Linked DNA regions of Homo sapiens: region 1 is linked to region 2. A link means that fine-mapping ties the variant in region 2 to the expression of a gene that starts in the linked region. Tissue or cell type: whole blood. Region 2 holds a variant in brackets; the other region holds the start of a gene. All regions are shown on one strand. Distances are from middle to middle.

The links. PIP is the estimated chance that this variant, and not a neighbour inherited with it, causes the effect.
Region 1: ZNF582-DT starts here. The variant in region 2 is fine-mapped to the expression of ZNF582-DT in whole blood (TOPMed, PIP 0.99).

Annotation. Positions count from the first base shown.
Region 1 is chr19:56,389,996-56,397,995 of GRCh38, reverse strand. It overlaps ZNF582-DT (ZNF582 divergent transcript), which reads right to left and starts at 4,320. Exons shown (of 2, transcript NR_037160.1): 1 at 3,943-4,320; 2 at 1-115. It overlaps ZNF582 (zinc finger protein 582), which reads left to right and starts at 4,462. Exons shown (of 5, transcript NM_001320371.4): 1 at 4,462-4,776; 2 at 6,164-6,252; 3 at 7,495-7,621; 4 at 7,900-7,995. The coding sequence starts at 6,244.
Region 2 is chr19:56,575,098-56,583,361 of GRCh38, reverse strand. ZNF470 (zinc finger protein 470) reads right to left here. Exons shown (of 6, transcript NM_001001668.4): 6 at 468-6,649. The coding sequence ends at 4,779. Among named protein-coding and RNA genes, the nearest start is that of ZNF470-DT, 11 kb to the right of the region's middle. The variant TTGTGTACCA/A (reference allele first, on the strand shown) is at 4,328.

The sequences.
Region 1 (8,000 bases), 190 kb after region 2:
TATTTACCCCAGACAATGATGCAGCTTCACCATCATTTTGCAAGGCTGAAGCAAGACGATCACTTGAGCTCCGGAGTTCAAGACCAGCCTGGGCAATACAGTGAGGCTCCCATCTCTACAGAAAAAAAAAAAGAAAAGAAAAATTAGCTGGTGTGGTGGTACGCACCTGTGTTCTCAGCTACTTGGGAGGCTGAGGTAGGAGGATCGCTTAAGCCCAGGAAGTTGAGGCTGCAGTAAGCCGTTTGTGCCACTGTGGCAAGCCAGATCTCACAAAAACTGAACAGGCAGGCCTCCATAAGAACTGTTCTAGCATTGACTAAATGGTTAGGTTAAATATTAAAGGCTGAGAGAGCCAGCGCCCTAACACAAAGGCTGATGATTTGAAGCATGACAAAATAATGAAGGAATGGTCACACTCCTCATACCAGGATCCATTTAGGATTAAACAAGTTTTATTGGGGGTCTAAAGGAACTCTCCAGACCTCCATAACTTAGTAGGAGACAAGATAAGGTAATTACCTTTGGCACTTGGACCCATCTAGAGTAAGTAAAATCACTGAGGCTCCAGAGGAATGTCCCCAAGGTCTATAACTCAGACCTTAGTTATAGATTAGAAGAAATTAATCACTTGTGTCTTTAGATGAATGCACACTAACATGTAGACATATAGCTTAGAAGGTAGATAAGCACTGGAAAACTTTGTAATTTTGAGTTGGTCTGGCAATATTTTTCTGGCCCTCTCCCTGTACCCGGTTACAGAAATAAAACTCTCTTCTTTCACAGTTCATCAGCATCTTGTTATAGGGCTGCGAGAATAAGCAGCCTGACCTTCAGTTCAGTCCAGGAACACCACTGCACACCAGCTTGGGTGACAGAGTGAGACCTTGTCTCTTAAAAAAAAAAGTCCTCAGAGAGAGGCCACATGTATTTTGTCCTCAGTTGTCACAAGGAAGATGCAATACATTTATTTTTCTCCTGGATTAGTACTGCAGAAAAGCCTTTTATCCTTTTTCTTTTTTGGCTATGGATGTCCAGTTGCTCCAGCACTGTTTGTTGAAAAGGTTATACTTCCTCCGTGGAAATTTATTATTATTATAATGCACAGATTTTAGGTCAGAAAAATTGGGGGAGGTGCCCAAGGTCACTCAGGGAGTAAGTAGCTAAGATTGGGTTAGAACCCACTTTGTTGTGTGATTCCTTGCTTGGATTACTATGCACAACAGAATATGGCCCACCTCCCCACAGTTGATCTCATTCAAGTGATAATGGGTGATCCTGAAACAGAAGGAATCTGGCAGAAGCACGGATATGGCTGGGGATAACAGGAGAGGGAGCTGCTGGAGTAACTCTGTGGGCGGCAAGCCACCCAGGTGCCAAGGCAAGAGACCGAGGACACGAGCTGTTCCAGTATAATAAAATATAAAACAAGAATAGTTATACCAGATATAGATCTTAGATATGATTATATATGAATATCATTAATCATTAGTTGGTAGCAATTACTCTTTATTCCAAATTATAATAATCCTCACTCTATAATCATAACCTGGGAAAAGCCAGGCCATATAGAGATAGGAGCTGAGGAGACATAGTGAGAAGTGACCAGAAGACAAGAGTGCGAGCCTTCTGTTATGCCCAGACAGGGCCACCAGAGGGCTCCTTGGTCTAGCGGTGATGCCAGCATCTGGGAAGATGCCCGTTGCCAAGCGGACCGTGGTCTAGCAGTAGTGTTAGTGTCAAGGAAAAACACCTGCTACGTAGCGGACCGGGAAAGGGAGTCTCCCTTTCCCCGGGGGAGTTTAGAGAAGACTCTACTCCTCCACCACTTGTGGAGGGCCTCAGGCCCACCTGCAGTTATCCGGAGGCCTAACCGTCTCCCTGTGATGCTGTGCTTCAGTGGTCACGCTCCTAGTCCACCTTCATGTTCCATCCTGTACACCTGGCTCTGCCGTTTAGTTAGCAGTAGCAAACCAGTGAAAGTACTAAGTCTCTAATAAGTAGAAATAATGGTGTAAGCTCTCTCTCTCTTTCTCCTCTCTCTCTCTGCCTCGGCTGCCAGGCAGGAAAGGGCCCCCTGTCCAGTGGACATGTGACCCATGTGGCCTTACCTATCATTGGAGATGGCTCACACTCCTTATCCTGCCCCTTTGTCTTGTATCCAATAAATATCAGCGCAGCCTGGCATTCGGGGCCACTACCAGTCTCCGCGTCTTGGTGGTAGTGGTCCCCTGGGCCCAGCTGTCTTTTCTTTTATCTCTGTCTTGCGTCTTTATTTCTACAATCTCTCGTCTCCGCACACGGGGAGAAACCAACCGACCCTGTGGGGCTGGACCCTACAAACTCTGCATGTGCTTTGGCACAGGAATGTGTACTGGGAAGTGGCTGACAAAAGACCTATGGATTCCATGGAATGGAGAGGCTAGCTCAGAGCATTCTCATACTCTTAAAAGGAAGAAACTGGAAGCCACCCTCTAAGACGACCCTGAATGATCCCTGCCTCCTAGTACTTATACTCTTGTGTAGCCTCCACCTACTTAGACTCACAGCTGATTTTGTGACCAAGAGTATAATGGTGTATGACTTCAGAGGCTTGGTTCAGAGTCAGAAGTGGCCATTTCATCATCCTCTAAATTTCTCTTTGGCAGATTAATGAATGTGAGAAAGTAAAAATGGTATAGAAGAAAGTTAGCCTGAGAGATGGCTGGCTTTGTACCTGTTTGGTCTTTTTCCTTCCTTTCCTCCATAAGCAAATACTGACGCATGTACATATAGACACACTCAACACAGTGGGATGTTAAAGGGAAACTAGAGCCACTCGCCCCTTCCCAAGATCAGAGAACATAGGAAAGATGATGACTTTTTGCATCTACCCTCTCCTCTTGAACTCGCAACACTGTCTTGAACCACAAATAAGGTCAAGTAGGATAAATCTACAACTGTCTCCTCAACTGTCCGCTCACAAGTGTGAAATTCAACCATCCTTGCTGAAGTTGTCTTTTAATATCAGTAATCAGCAATAACCAACCTCTGAGCTTTGCTTATATTATTAAATCATTTTATTTGACCCTCAGGACAAAGCTGCAAGCCCAGCATTACATTCTTCCTTTTATGGACAAAAAAAAAAAAACAAAACAAAACCGAGATAGGCACGAAGAAACTAATAAATGGCTGAAATGCTATTTGAATCCACATCTGTCTAATTCTAAAAGTGTGCTTTCCACCACATCACCGCACCTACAAGGAAAATGCAGCCTCTACCCTCTCCTGAAGAATGTGTAAAGAGGCAATATGGTGTGTTTTGGAAAAAGCATCTTTGCAGAAAGAAAGCATTAGCTTCAGTCATATTAGCATCCTTATCCAGCAGCAGTAGCATTATTTTACATATCAGTTACTCCTCCCCAACAACTCAATGAATTAGATGCCACAATCATCCTCACTTTCAAATGTGGAGACCGAGGCACATCTCTAAGACTGGAGTTCAGGCATTCTGGCTCCAGTCTTAGAGATGGTTAAGGGTTCACACTCTTAACCATTTATTACACCATAGAGCTCACCAGGTTTGAGGGAAACAGGATCAAATCAAAAGAGTCACTCAGGACTCCAGTCCTCACTCAAGGACAAACTGTTCCACCTCGGACAGGGAGAGTTTCCGCATTCTGAGACCCAGCATAACAGGTCCTGACCGGCATCTGGCACTCGGACTCCCAATCATACTGGATCACACTGGCTCGGGATGTGTAAAGTCCAGGGCTTCTCACATTTGATGACACCAAAGCCGCCTAAAAACAAGAGAGAATTAACAACTACCTACGGCGGTCTGATATTTGCCCAAGAGATGCCGCCCCATAAAACTCCTTTACATCTTTATAACGTTTTTATTTTGCGTTCTCCTTCATAACCCACATTTAACTCACCATAGATGTAATGTTTAAAATTAGTTACCAGATAAACTCTTACGCTTCCAAACTTTAAGGTTCCTTCGAAACCTTCTGGTAAAACTGTTGTTCCACGGAAATGGGAACGTAACGGATGAGGCAATCTTCCACAGCCGCACACAGTTGTGTATCCACCGCTAAACGGTCCCAGTCATACATTCAACGACCCACGCGGAGTCAGAAGCTACCACCACACACTGTCAAAATCACGCACACACAGTGACGGCCCCTTGCCCACTCGGTCACTCGCCCACAATCTCTCGCTAGAGAATCACACGCAGATAGCACACCCAGCACCACAGACCCCAGGAAGCAACCCAGGGACTCGAACACACGAACAGCACTCCTCCGCGCACTGCGCAGGCACGCCTGCGTCCGGCTCACCCTGAAACATCGCGAGATCCGGCTTCAAGGCCGGGCTGCTGCCTTTACGCCTAAAGACTATGTTTCCCGGAAGACACTGCGGCGCCGGCCCTATCATGGCGCAGCATCGGTGTGCTTTGTGCGTCTGCGCCATCTTCCGGCTGCGCACGGCGAATCCACCGGTACCGTGGTGGAAGCGCGCCCTGGGCTGCCGGGGGCGCGGCCGCGGTGGCACTTGGACCCGAGGAGGCGGCAGGTGAGAGGTTCCGGAGCTTTCCAGGCGCTCTGGGGTCCAGCAGGAGCTGGTGCCCGGGCCGGTTGGGTCTCAGGCCTGAGAAGAACGCAGACGTCTCGCCTCATCGTCGCTCTGTGGCTTTACCGGCGTGAGACTACATTTCCCGCCGGCCCTCGCGGCGTGCGCTTTCTGGCGCCCCCTTTCTGCTTCCAGCCTCATAGCCCAGGTGCATGGACCCCTTAGGTGGGTGCGCAGGGGTCTCCGACCCCCTGAAATTGCGGATGTTTTGCATTCACTGTTATGCGTGCCTTTTTTTTTTTTTAATCTGAGAGGAAATCTTGTTTCATGAGGTTCTCAGAGAGTTACAAGACCCCAGAAGACTTAGAACCGCTAGTTTAGAAAAACTTATACTTGGGAACATTTTATATGTTCAAATTCTATGTCCAGCAATGGGGAAACACTTGAGTGGATCACAGGCCATCCTTTGTAAATAGGATATCGTGCAGTTAATACAAATAATGCTTATAAAAGTGGTCATAATAAGGAAAAGCTGCCTATTACATCATATTAAGCAACATTCATAATTATTTCACTTACACGTTACTTAGAACCAAATGTTTGTAATGCAGTAGGCACCTTATATACTCCTTTACAGAGTACTTCTTGTTTAACAGTGAGCTCAAGAACTGGTTAAATGACAACACTGCGAATACTTGGGTGTTTTTTCTTCCAATTTTTTTGTTTTGTTTTGTTTTTAGCCTGTGTGTTAGTGAGTTTGACTTCTTTTTGCTGAATGTTCTCAAAGGATTCAGTAGTTAATATCTTTGCTTGTCAGTTTTTGATAGTCATTTTTGATAGTCACTTGGCATCCCATTATATGGCTGTGCCAAAAATGATTCAACCTCTTGGCTACTTGTGGACTTGCCTACTTACGTACTAATTTTCAGTTCTCCTATTTAGCAAATATTATTGGACATGCAGCTTTGTGCACTGCTGTGTCTCTATGGAAGGACACATTTATGTGCTGATAATGGAGCACTGGGCGTGCTGTGTGTAATTTGTCTCTTACTGTTCCTTCCAACTCTATCCCATTTGTTGATGCAAGGCATGCTCCATGAAGTGGCATGCACAAAGCCTCAGTTTGGGCTGTAGAGCTTTTTGTATATTTGGCGGTTGGGAAAAGAGCCAGGTAGACTTTCAAAGGTGTTATATTTGCTGCAGGAGAGAGTTAAATGGCCTAGTCCTGGAAAGGCTTTATTCTAGGCTGGGGCTATGCAAATGATGCAGGCCTTCTATGCTCCCTGGCTTGAGGGAAGCCCTCCTTGTCCTTGAGGTAACATGTGGGTCTCAGTCACTAGAACAGCCCTCAGCATCCCTGTCTTAGACTTGCATTTGCAGCAAAACAGAACCACTGGATGTTTAGGGGAAATGGGAGGGAAAGGACCACTGGTTCCCCTTTGCCTTGCAGCAGCTAAAGCTGGTTTCCTGGGGTTGGGTGAGGATCCCTTTGCCTCCCCCTCCTTCTCATTTTCTTGGTGGGCAGAGGGCAAGCAGGTGGGGACTTGTAACTTGGCATTCTAGGAACTGTGAGGCAAGCCTAGCCTCTCATGTTTGCTCTTTCCTCCCCCAGCTCTACCGTCGCAGGACTCTGCCCTTCCCCAAGAGAGGAACCAGAAGGAGGACCTATCAGCCCTTGAAATTCTAAAAGTCATGTCCCTTGTGAGTTTTTAAATCCCATAAATATTTGCTTTCCTTATCTTGAAACTTTCCACCTGGGTTCCATCCAGAAATTTGGTTCTCAGACTTTCCCATTTTAGGGAATAAAAGGACCAGGCAGGAGTCTCCTCTCCCATTGTCCTCTCCCCTCTGACAAATGCCCACAGATTTATTCTCTATAGCATTCTGCATCTCCTGATGGTTTTCGTCTGCTAGGAGGAGAAACTCATTTCCCTGTATGAAATGAGAGCATCCTTTGTAAGAACTGAAGTTTGAAGAGATGGAATGAATGCTTAGGAGCAATCACATATAGAAAAGCAGGGGAGGTGGTGTTGGTTGGTTTCAGTTTCAGCGCATGGTACAGTGTCCTGCTTTGGGAATGATTAATGATTGGATATGTAATTGAGGTTTGGCTGGGAATCCATCAAAAATTTGATGCCAGAATTAAAGTCTAGTTTGACGTTGGACAGAGCATTTGAATCTGGGACATCCTCCATTAGTTTCTTTAGCTTAAGAGGAAGAAAAGTACAGAGCTGAGGATGGTGAGCGATGTAGCAAGTGAGATGATCATCTAGGTGGGTGAGTGGTCAGGGCTTGGAAAAGCCTTAGAGATCTGATCCAACCTCGGGATCCAAAATAAGAGGATGTTTGAGTCAGTTGTTTCACTTGATAGAAAATTGTGCACTCAATAAAAGTTATCTCCATGGTTTTTCCCATGAAGAAAAATGCTTGTGTTATGTTCCAACATAATGATGAACTTTCATCTCCAAGAAATTCTTGACTTACATGAAAATCCTGTATCTAAGATAGAAAACATGTTTCCATAATTTTAAAAAATAAAATATTTGGGGAAAATCCATCAGAAATATTTTTTGTTGTTATTGTTATTCCAAAAGATAGAAGTGATAGGTCTCACCTTGAGAATTTATTGTATGCCAAGTATAGAGTGGGCAGTGTGCTTTATTACACTGTTTCTTAACAATAAGGAAAACTCCATTTAGCTTGATTTTAATTTTCATCCCAGACCTGTACACAGAGCATTGATTTGCAGTTAAAAGGAATGTTTGAGAACAATTTGATCATTCTGTTTTACTCATCCCCATTTCTTCTGTCACCTTTCACATTCAGTCCCACCCTTCTTGTTCAACAAAACAACCCCCCCTCCCGCAAAGACCTGCCCCATCTCCTTTCATCCCACTGTGAACCATTGAAATACATATATATCATACATGCCTGTCATTCCAGGGGTCAGAATTGTTCAGGGATGTGGCCATAGTCTTCTCCCAAGAAGAATGGCAGTGGTTGGCACCTGCTCAGAGGGATTTGTACAGAGACGTGATGTTGGAGACCTACAGCAACCTGGTCTCACTGGGTAAGGTGATCTCGTCTGTTAGTTTGGAGGTTATCCTTGGGCATGTTCCTTCCTGGTCAGTTTTTGGGTGCTTTTCAGTCTTATGATTGGTTGGTCATTTTTGAGGGGTTAAAGGGCGGCGCTGTCGGCTGAAGCTGCATCCCCCTACCCCCAGGCAACTGTCCCATCTTCCTCTGGCACTTCCTGCAACTGCCTCTCCTGCTTGATGACCAGGTCCTGGATCTGAATTCTGGGGCCCCCACACCATAACCAGGTGGCATGTTTCTTCTCATCTCCAGGTCTTGCCGTTTCCAAACCTGATGTGATCTCCTTCCTAGAGCAAGGCAAAGAGCCCTGGATGGTGGAGAGAGTGGTGTCTGGAGGCCTGTGTCCAGGTGAG
Region 2 (8,264 bases):
AAAGTGCTAGGATTACAGGCATGAGCCACTGTGCTCAGCCTGATTTTTGCATTTAATGTTATGGTCATGTTAAATTCACTTTGTTATTCCATGTGAGCAACAATGGAATGGGGGAATAAGATGAACTGTTAGCTGTCTCTTCAGAACAGCCATATGTACCTATGCAAACAGATGTTAATAGGTGGTATATCACACGAATCCGGAAGTTCAGTATATTCCAATCCTTTGGCTCATCTCCAATATCACCTTTCCAATAGTAGAGCTATATTTTTTTCTGTTCAATATTCTGTTACACAAGAAGTATGACCATATATCCTGCTTTGCTGAGGATATGAACACCTGTTGTCAAGTGCCCTGTGCAGTTAGCTACTCCTTTCACTCTCAAAAATGTCCCAGTTTGAACAATAAATTATATGGTAATTGCATTAATCAGTTCAGGCTGCCGTAACAATATACCACAGACTGGGTGGCTTAAACAACCAACATTTATTTTCTCACAGTCCTGGAGATTAAAAGTCCAAGATCAAGGTGCTGGCAGGGCTGGTTCCTGGTGAGGTCTCTCCTCCTGGCTTGCAGATGGCAGCATTCTTGTTGTGTCCTTACACAGCATTTCCTCTGTGCACATGTGGAGAGACAAACCTCTGGTGTCTCTTCCTCTTATAAGGACACTAGTCCTATGGGATTAGGGCCTCACTCTTATGGCCTAACTTAACCTTAGTTTCTTAAAGGCCTTATGTCCAAATACAGTCATGTTGGGGTTTAGGACTTCAACAAGTAAATTTGGTGGTGGTAGAGGCCAGCATTTGGTGGTGCTGGTGGGAACACAATTCAGAACTGAATTCACAATTCAATTCACAGTGACTCTTGTGAATAAAGTATAAAATTTAACCAGCATTCCACTTTAACAATGCATAAAAATAGTCTCTAAATTTGGTTATGAGCCATCTTAACCCTATGACTTTAAACAATGTAAGACATCTTTCAACAATATCATACAAAATCCCTTAGGTGAATTTTTTTTGCCTTAATGCTAGAAATTCAAGAGCTAAACTTTAAGTTATTCCAAGCAGTTAGATACCAGTATTACATATACCTTTTGGATTCAGCATTCTCCATCCTCCTTAAATTATCATTATCCAGAACCCTAGACCTCTATTCATCCCAGGTGACTATAATGAATAATCAGGCGTTTGCTCATCGCACACCATGAGATGCTTTCCAGTCTAGAATATAAGTCTTATTCGCCCCATCTCATCCAAAAAGCAACTCCCAATACCTGATTTTTCCAAAGATTCTAATGCCCATTACCCAATCTTCGTACCAAATTCTGTATGATTGTTTCTTTACTTGCAAGCAACTGACCAACAGGAGGCAAAAATCAAGTACCGGAAAGACAATGGGTAGTTTGAGGAATCACAGACTTGGAAAGTACAAAAACCAGGGTGGTTCCAAGGACCAATCAAAAGAATAACTGCATCAGCTTTTAGGGAGTTGCCATTGGATGACACAGATCCAAATGCCTTTTGAAATTCAGAGACAATTTTATTGGCCACGTCCATCAAAAACATATGGTAGGGTATGGCCAGTTACTCAAAAGGAAAAGATGAGATAGTGCAGCCAAAAGGAGGAGGCAAGGGAAACTGGGCAGAGAAAAACAAATGCCTACTATAATATATATTTTGATTTTTATTTTTGATATCACAATTATGGGCCTATACTACAATACAGGTCTGCAATTTTTCATTTAGTATAGCACAGCTATCTTTCTATGACTACACACATTGATTTTTTTTCAACAGCTGCATAATTCCTATTGAATGGATATATACCATAATTAATTTATTTATTACCCTGATGGACACTTGTTGTTTTAATAGTTTACCATTAATTTTTTTGCCACTAATACATTTATCTACCTTTGTATATGTTGGTTTCCAAGGAATATTAATTCAAAGGGTATATACATAAAGCAATAGATATGTAATCAACAATGGAATTCCCTTGTTTCCACACATTCACCAATACTGAATGTTATCACTCGATTAGTCAGTCTTTTGGGGAAAAAGTAGATAATCACTTTAATTTGCATTTCTTGATTTCTAGTGATATTGGATAATTTTCATTAACTGCTTTTATTGCATCTTTTGTGAATGGGACATTAGTCCATTTTTCTAAGTTGCAGATTATTATTGGTTTGTAATAGTACTTTGAATATCACGAATTACAGTCCTTTATTATATCTGTTGCAAACACTTTGTGTCAGTCTCTCATTTATCTATTGACTATGATGTTTTCCACCATATAAAAGCCTAATGTCAGCTTTGGGGTTATGCATTAGTGCTTAAAGTCTATTTCAAACCGAGGGTACATATATATTATTCTGTTTTTCATGTACTTTAATTTTACATTTAGACCTTTAATATCTCAGGCATTTCATTAGTGTGAAAGGTACAGATCTGTTTTTCCAGTGAGCTAAGTTTCCCAATGCCATTTGATCAAACCACCTTTTCCCCACTACAATGAAAAATCCTTTTTATCATATATAAGGAGAGTCTGAAAGCTCCACATTCTCTGGTGAGACTACCCATCCCCTAGCCATTATGCTTCTATCAGCAGAAGTGAAGAGGGAGCCCCAAACTCCATTTTCTAGCAGTCATGTACTCTGGATAACGGCTTCCCTCACATGGCCCTCTATACTTCCACAGAAAGCAGTTAAGAGGGAACCCAAGAGCTCTGGGTGCTTCAGTTGAAAAAAAAAAAAAAGTACTCTTCCAGGGATGGCCATAACTACAAAAGGACAAGGGATTCCTCTTTGAGGTGATGAAAATGTTCTAAAATTGATGGTGGTGATGGTTGCACAACTCCGTGAATGAACTAAAAGCCATAAGTTGTACACTTTAAGTGGAACTTTGGGGCTCCCTCTTCACTTCTGCTGATGGATACAGAGAGAAGGATATGGGTGTTCTCCAGAATTGCTTTGTCTCAATAAAGCTGTCACTCAAAAAATACCCTTCCACCAGCTTCTAAATCAACATTTATATGAGTGAACATAACTGCCATGATCTCTGTTAAACCATCAATCCTCCCTTCCTCCAACACTCAAAGCATCATAAACAATATCTGCCTTGGGACTATCATGACTATTTTCATTATGCCTTTTGTGTCTCACAGTTACCTCTAGTTCTTCCCTCATCCTCTAATACCAACATGTTCTGGGGATAGTAAGGTGCCTGATCCAGCACTCCCTAGCTTCTTTTTTATATCATTTCTCTTTATGGGACATATCATATACTTATCACATAGCATGCATTTAATTTTTTCTGTTCTACTAGATCTGTAAGAGCACGTATTTTTGTCCATCTTGTACCTTACTGTATCCCCCAGCACCTAAAATAGTGTGTGAAACATTAGCAAATGTTCAATTAGTATTAGTACTACATTCCTAATGTAAACTACATTCCTCGTTAAAATCAAAATTCTACAGATGATCAGAATCAGCTTCTCAACTAAAAAAATATGGAAATTTTTACTGGAATATCAATGAATTTACAATTTAGGGAGAAATATTTTTATCAGATTTTCTATACAGAGGCATGTCTAGCCTTCCTATTTTTAAATATTTTAAAAATAAGTTTAAGTTGTAACATCTACATTCAGAAACTAATTGCAGTGTACATATTTTTATGTTTTGGCATGTCTTGTCAATCTCATGGAACAAGATGGAAGGTCTTATTGCATTTTATTTTATGCTAGAACAATTTAAATACCACACGAATTGTCTGTGGTACTTTTATAAAGGCCAAAGTATTGAACTACCCTTTTCAGTGTTTCATGGCTATTAATCTATTCAAGTTTTTTTGGCTTGTTACTTTTGGTTTACTACTACCTACCCTGGTTAGTCCTACATTCTACCAAATGCTTTTGTTCTTTGTTTTTCCTTGAGACAGTGTCTGGCTCTGCTGCCCAGCTGGAATTGCAGTGGTGTGATCATGACTCACTGCAACCTCTACCTCCTGGGCTCAAGCAATCCTCCTGCTTCAGCCTCCTGAGTAGCTAGGACTACAGGTGTGCACCACCACGCCTGGCTAATTTCTGTATTTTTTGTAGAGACAGGGTTTCACCATGTTGCTCAGGTTGGTCTCGAACTCCTGAGCTCAAGCAATCTGCCTGCCTCAGCCTCCCAAAGTGCTGGGACTACAGGCATGAGCCACCGCACCCAGCTAAAAGCTTTTGTTCTAATTGGCTGATTCTCACTTCTCAGTGTCAGGTAAAGTGAGAGTTGCTCATCAACAATGTCACAGAGGGAGTGATAAGCCACCATGTTACC[TTGTGTACCA/A]TAAATCTTTCAATTCTGAGTTTGTTCATCTTTCCTCTCTACCAGGAGAGTAGTCTTCTGTCTGCTCTAAAATCTTAGTCTTAGACTTACTGTTTGGTTTACTTGCTGCTTAATATGATAGTTTGTAAGGAAACCTTTACCTTAATGGCTAGCATTTATTTAGCAATAACTATATGCCAGTGTGTGCTAAATCCTTGAAATGGATTAGTTAATATATTTTTCAAATCAAGTGTTTTAAATGGGAAAATAACATAAATTATGTATTTTTATTTTTAAAAGGTTAGGCTGCCTACAGTGTTAAACATGTAGTTGATAGAAGCAAAAGGGGCAACAGTTATGCTACTGCAGAAATCCAGATGAGATGGTTGCGTCTTGGACTATGATGATGGGACATGTGCTGGAAAAAAGCAGATGGATGCTAGAAGCATTTACGAGATTGAATCTATAGGACTTGGTGGTATGGGAGGGCAGAGGAGAGAATAACTGATGACTCTCCGGTATGAATTCGCTGATGATGAGCAAGATGTACACTCTGCCTGAAGGCTTTTCCACATTCTTTACACTCATAGGGCCTTTCTCCAGTATGAATTCTCTTATGTAGAGTAAGATGGGCAACCTGGCTGAAGGCTTTGCTACATTCCTTACACTCATAAGGTTTCTCTCCTGTATGAATTCTCTGATGCAGAGTAAGGGATTTACGATGGCTAAAGGCTTTCCCACAAACATTACATTCATAAGGTTTCTCACCAGTATGACATCTCTGATGACAAATCAAGGATGCCCTCTGCCTGAATGCCTTCCCACATTCAAGACATTCATACGGTCTTTTGCCACTGTGGAGTCTCTGATGTTGAACAAGATATGAGCCATCACTAAAGGCCTTCCCACATTCAATACATTCGTAAGGCTTCTCACCAGTATGAACTCTCTGGTGCTGAACAAGGTGTGCAATCTGACTGAAGGCCTTACCACATTCCTTACATTCATAAGGTTTCTCCCCAGTGTGTATTTTCTGATGTTGCGCGAGGTGTGCATTCTGGCTGAAGGTTTTGCTGCATTCCTTACATTCATAAGGTTTCTCTCCAGTATGAATTCTCTGATGATGAGCCAGATGCGTGCTCTGCCGGAAAGCTTTCCCACATTCTTTACATTCATAGGGTTTCTCTCCAGTATGAACTCTCTGATGAAGAGTAAGAGACCCACGATGGCTGAAGGCTTTCTCACAGATATTGCATTCATAAGGTTTCTCTCCTGTATGAATTCTCTGATGTACTGTCAGAGATGAGCCATGGCTAAAAGCCTTCCCACACACATTACATTTGTAAGGTCTCTCTCCAGTATGAGTTCTCTTATGCTGAATAAGTCCTATGTGATCAGTGAAAGCCTTCCCACAATCAATACAGTCAAAGGGTTTCTCTCCAGTATGATAATATCGCCGATGACGTATAAGAGAAGCATTCTGCCTGAAAGCTTTCCCACAGTCAATACATTCATAAGGTCTTTTCCCAGTGTGAATCCTTCGATGATGAGCTAGGGATGAGCAATCACTAAAAGCCTTCCCACATTCAATACATTCATAGGGTTTCTCTCCAGTGTGGACCCTCTGATGTTGAGCAAGGTGTGCAAGCTGGCTGAATGCTTTATTACACTGCTTACACTGATAAGGTTTCTCTCCAGTATGAACTCTCTGGTGTTGAACAAGATGAGCATTCTGGCTGAAGGCTTTCCCACATTCAGTACATTCAAAAGGTTTTTCTCCTGTGTGTATTCTCTGATGTTGAGCAAGGTGGGCACTCTGGCTAAAGGCCTTTCCACATTCAATACATTCATAGGGTTTCTCTCCTGTATGAATTCTTTGGTGAAGAGTAAGGGTTGAGATTTTGCTGAATATTTTCTCACAGTCATTACATTTTAAAAGTTTCTTTTCTCCACGGTCTTGCTTGTGTTTTTTCACAACTGAATGTGTTTTTAAGCTTTTCTTATCTGTATGAAAATTAAATATTCTCTCTTCCATGGGAAAAATCTGTTTTATATAAGATAATGTATTCAGATGAAAAACTGTCCCAGATTTGTTAGAGTGATCTCTTTTTTCAATAAGAGTATCTATATGAGTGATGGTCTCTTGCCTAAAATGTGTCTTCTGGTTTACAAGCTCCCTCTCAAACAAGTCTTCACATTTCCAGTTTTTCCCTAATGTTGAACATTCAAGGTCATAGCTTTTAAGTCTTTCCATTATGATTGCCGGGGGTAATTTTTCTTCATAAATATCCTGGTTTAAAGATAATGATTTGGTCACCCACACACACTCCAAGTCTGAAAGATATTAAGAAAGTAAATGTCTCCTTTATTAAATGCTAGAATAATGGAAATTTCGAAAATGAAAATGTGAATCACATAGTTATTGAAACCCACAAGCAGAGGTACATGTTTTTATGGTTCTTACATAAGATTAGGTGATACAACCATCCTTGCACTGCTGTAATAAATCCTCCTTGGCCATGGTATACTATTTCAATATGACCTTTTAAGATTTTGAACCAATATTGATAATTGAGGTTTGTCTCTAATTTCTCTTTTTGGTGCTATTTTGGTAATTTTGGTATCATCGGATATGCTGTATTCATAAACAAAAATGTTTTAAGCTCTCTTTTTATTCTCTATCCCAGAACAATTTAAACAACATTGATGATATTTTTCCTTAAAGAACTATTCGGGGATGTGGCTTCTTTTCTTGGGGGAGGCAGTTCCTATACAACATTCTACATTTCTCTGATGGTAACTTACTTGTTTAAATGTTGTATCTCCTCTTGGTATCAGTTATGGTAACCTACATTATTATATTCTTCTAGAATATCATCTATTTTTTCAAATTATTTTATGGAGAGTTGAGGAAAATAGATTCACATGATTCTTTTAAGTTCTTATGCATGTGTGGTTATTTATAATTATTTTGTTTTTGTGTTTTCTCTCATTTGTCCTTAGTTTATATACTGTGTTGGTTTTCTAATGAAGTATGTACAATACTTTATTTTCAGTAGCGCTACTGTTTCTAATTCATTTATTCCTACTTTTATTTGTAGACGTATAAATCACTACATATAACTTATCTGGGCTTTCCTTAAATTCATTTTGTTCTTTTTCTAATATTGTGAATCAGATGCTTACTGATTTTCATTATTTCTTATTTATTAATGTACATAGGACCACAAGTAACCCACAATCCTCTTGTTGAAACTATAAGAACTGAAAGTAGGGCCAGGTGTGGTGATGCATTCCTGTAGTCCTAGCTACTCAAGAAGCTGTGGTGGGAGTATTGCTTGAGCCCAAAAGTTCAACTCCAGCCTGGGTAACATAGCAAGATCCTGTCTCTAATTTTAAAAAGTAAAATAAAATAAAATAAAATGAAGAACTGAAAGTAGGAAAAGTCTACGCTTCAGGCCACAGATTAAACCAGGACCATCTCATTTGAGGTTCATTTTCTTGCAATATATTTCTGTCGTCTCTTATCTAGCTTTCTAAATCAGTAAAACAGCTACAAAGCAAGGCAAGAAAATTAAAAAAAAAAAAAAAAAATTGAATGAAATACCCTGCGTCAAAAATCCCAGTGAGCACAATATAAGTGGGGAAATGATGTACACAGGGAAAGAAAGTAATATTCATGAGCTAATTTCTTCATCTTTTGTAAGGGTATCAGAAGACAATGTTTGGAATACCAAGCAGAAAAATTCTAAAAGATCTTAAAATATATAAATACATAAAGGTAACAACTTGTAGAACTAAAAACTTTTCTAATTCAAAGGGTGGGGTGGTATAAAGAAGAGAGTGAGAAAAAAACAGACCTAATAAACAACAAAACAAGAATAAATAACACAAGAAATACAAAAAAGAAAAAGGCAGAGGGAAGAAAATAGCTGTAATACATGTTAAC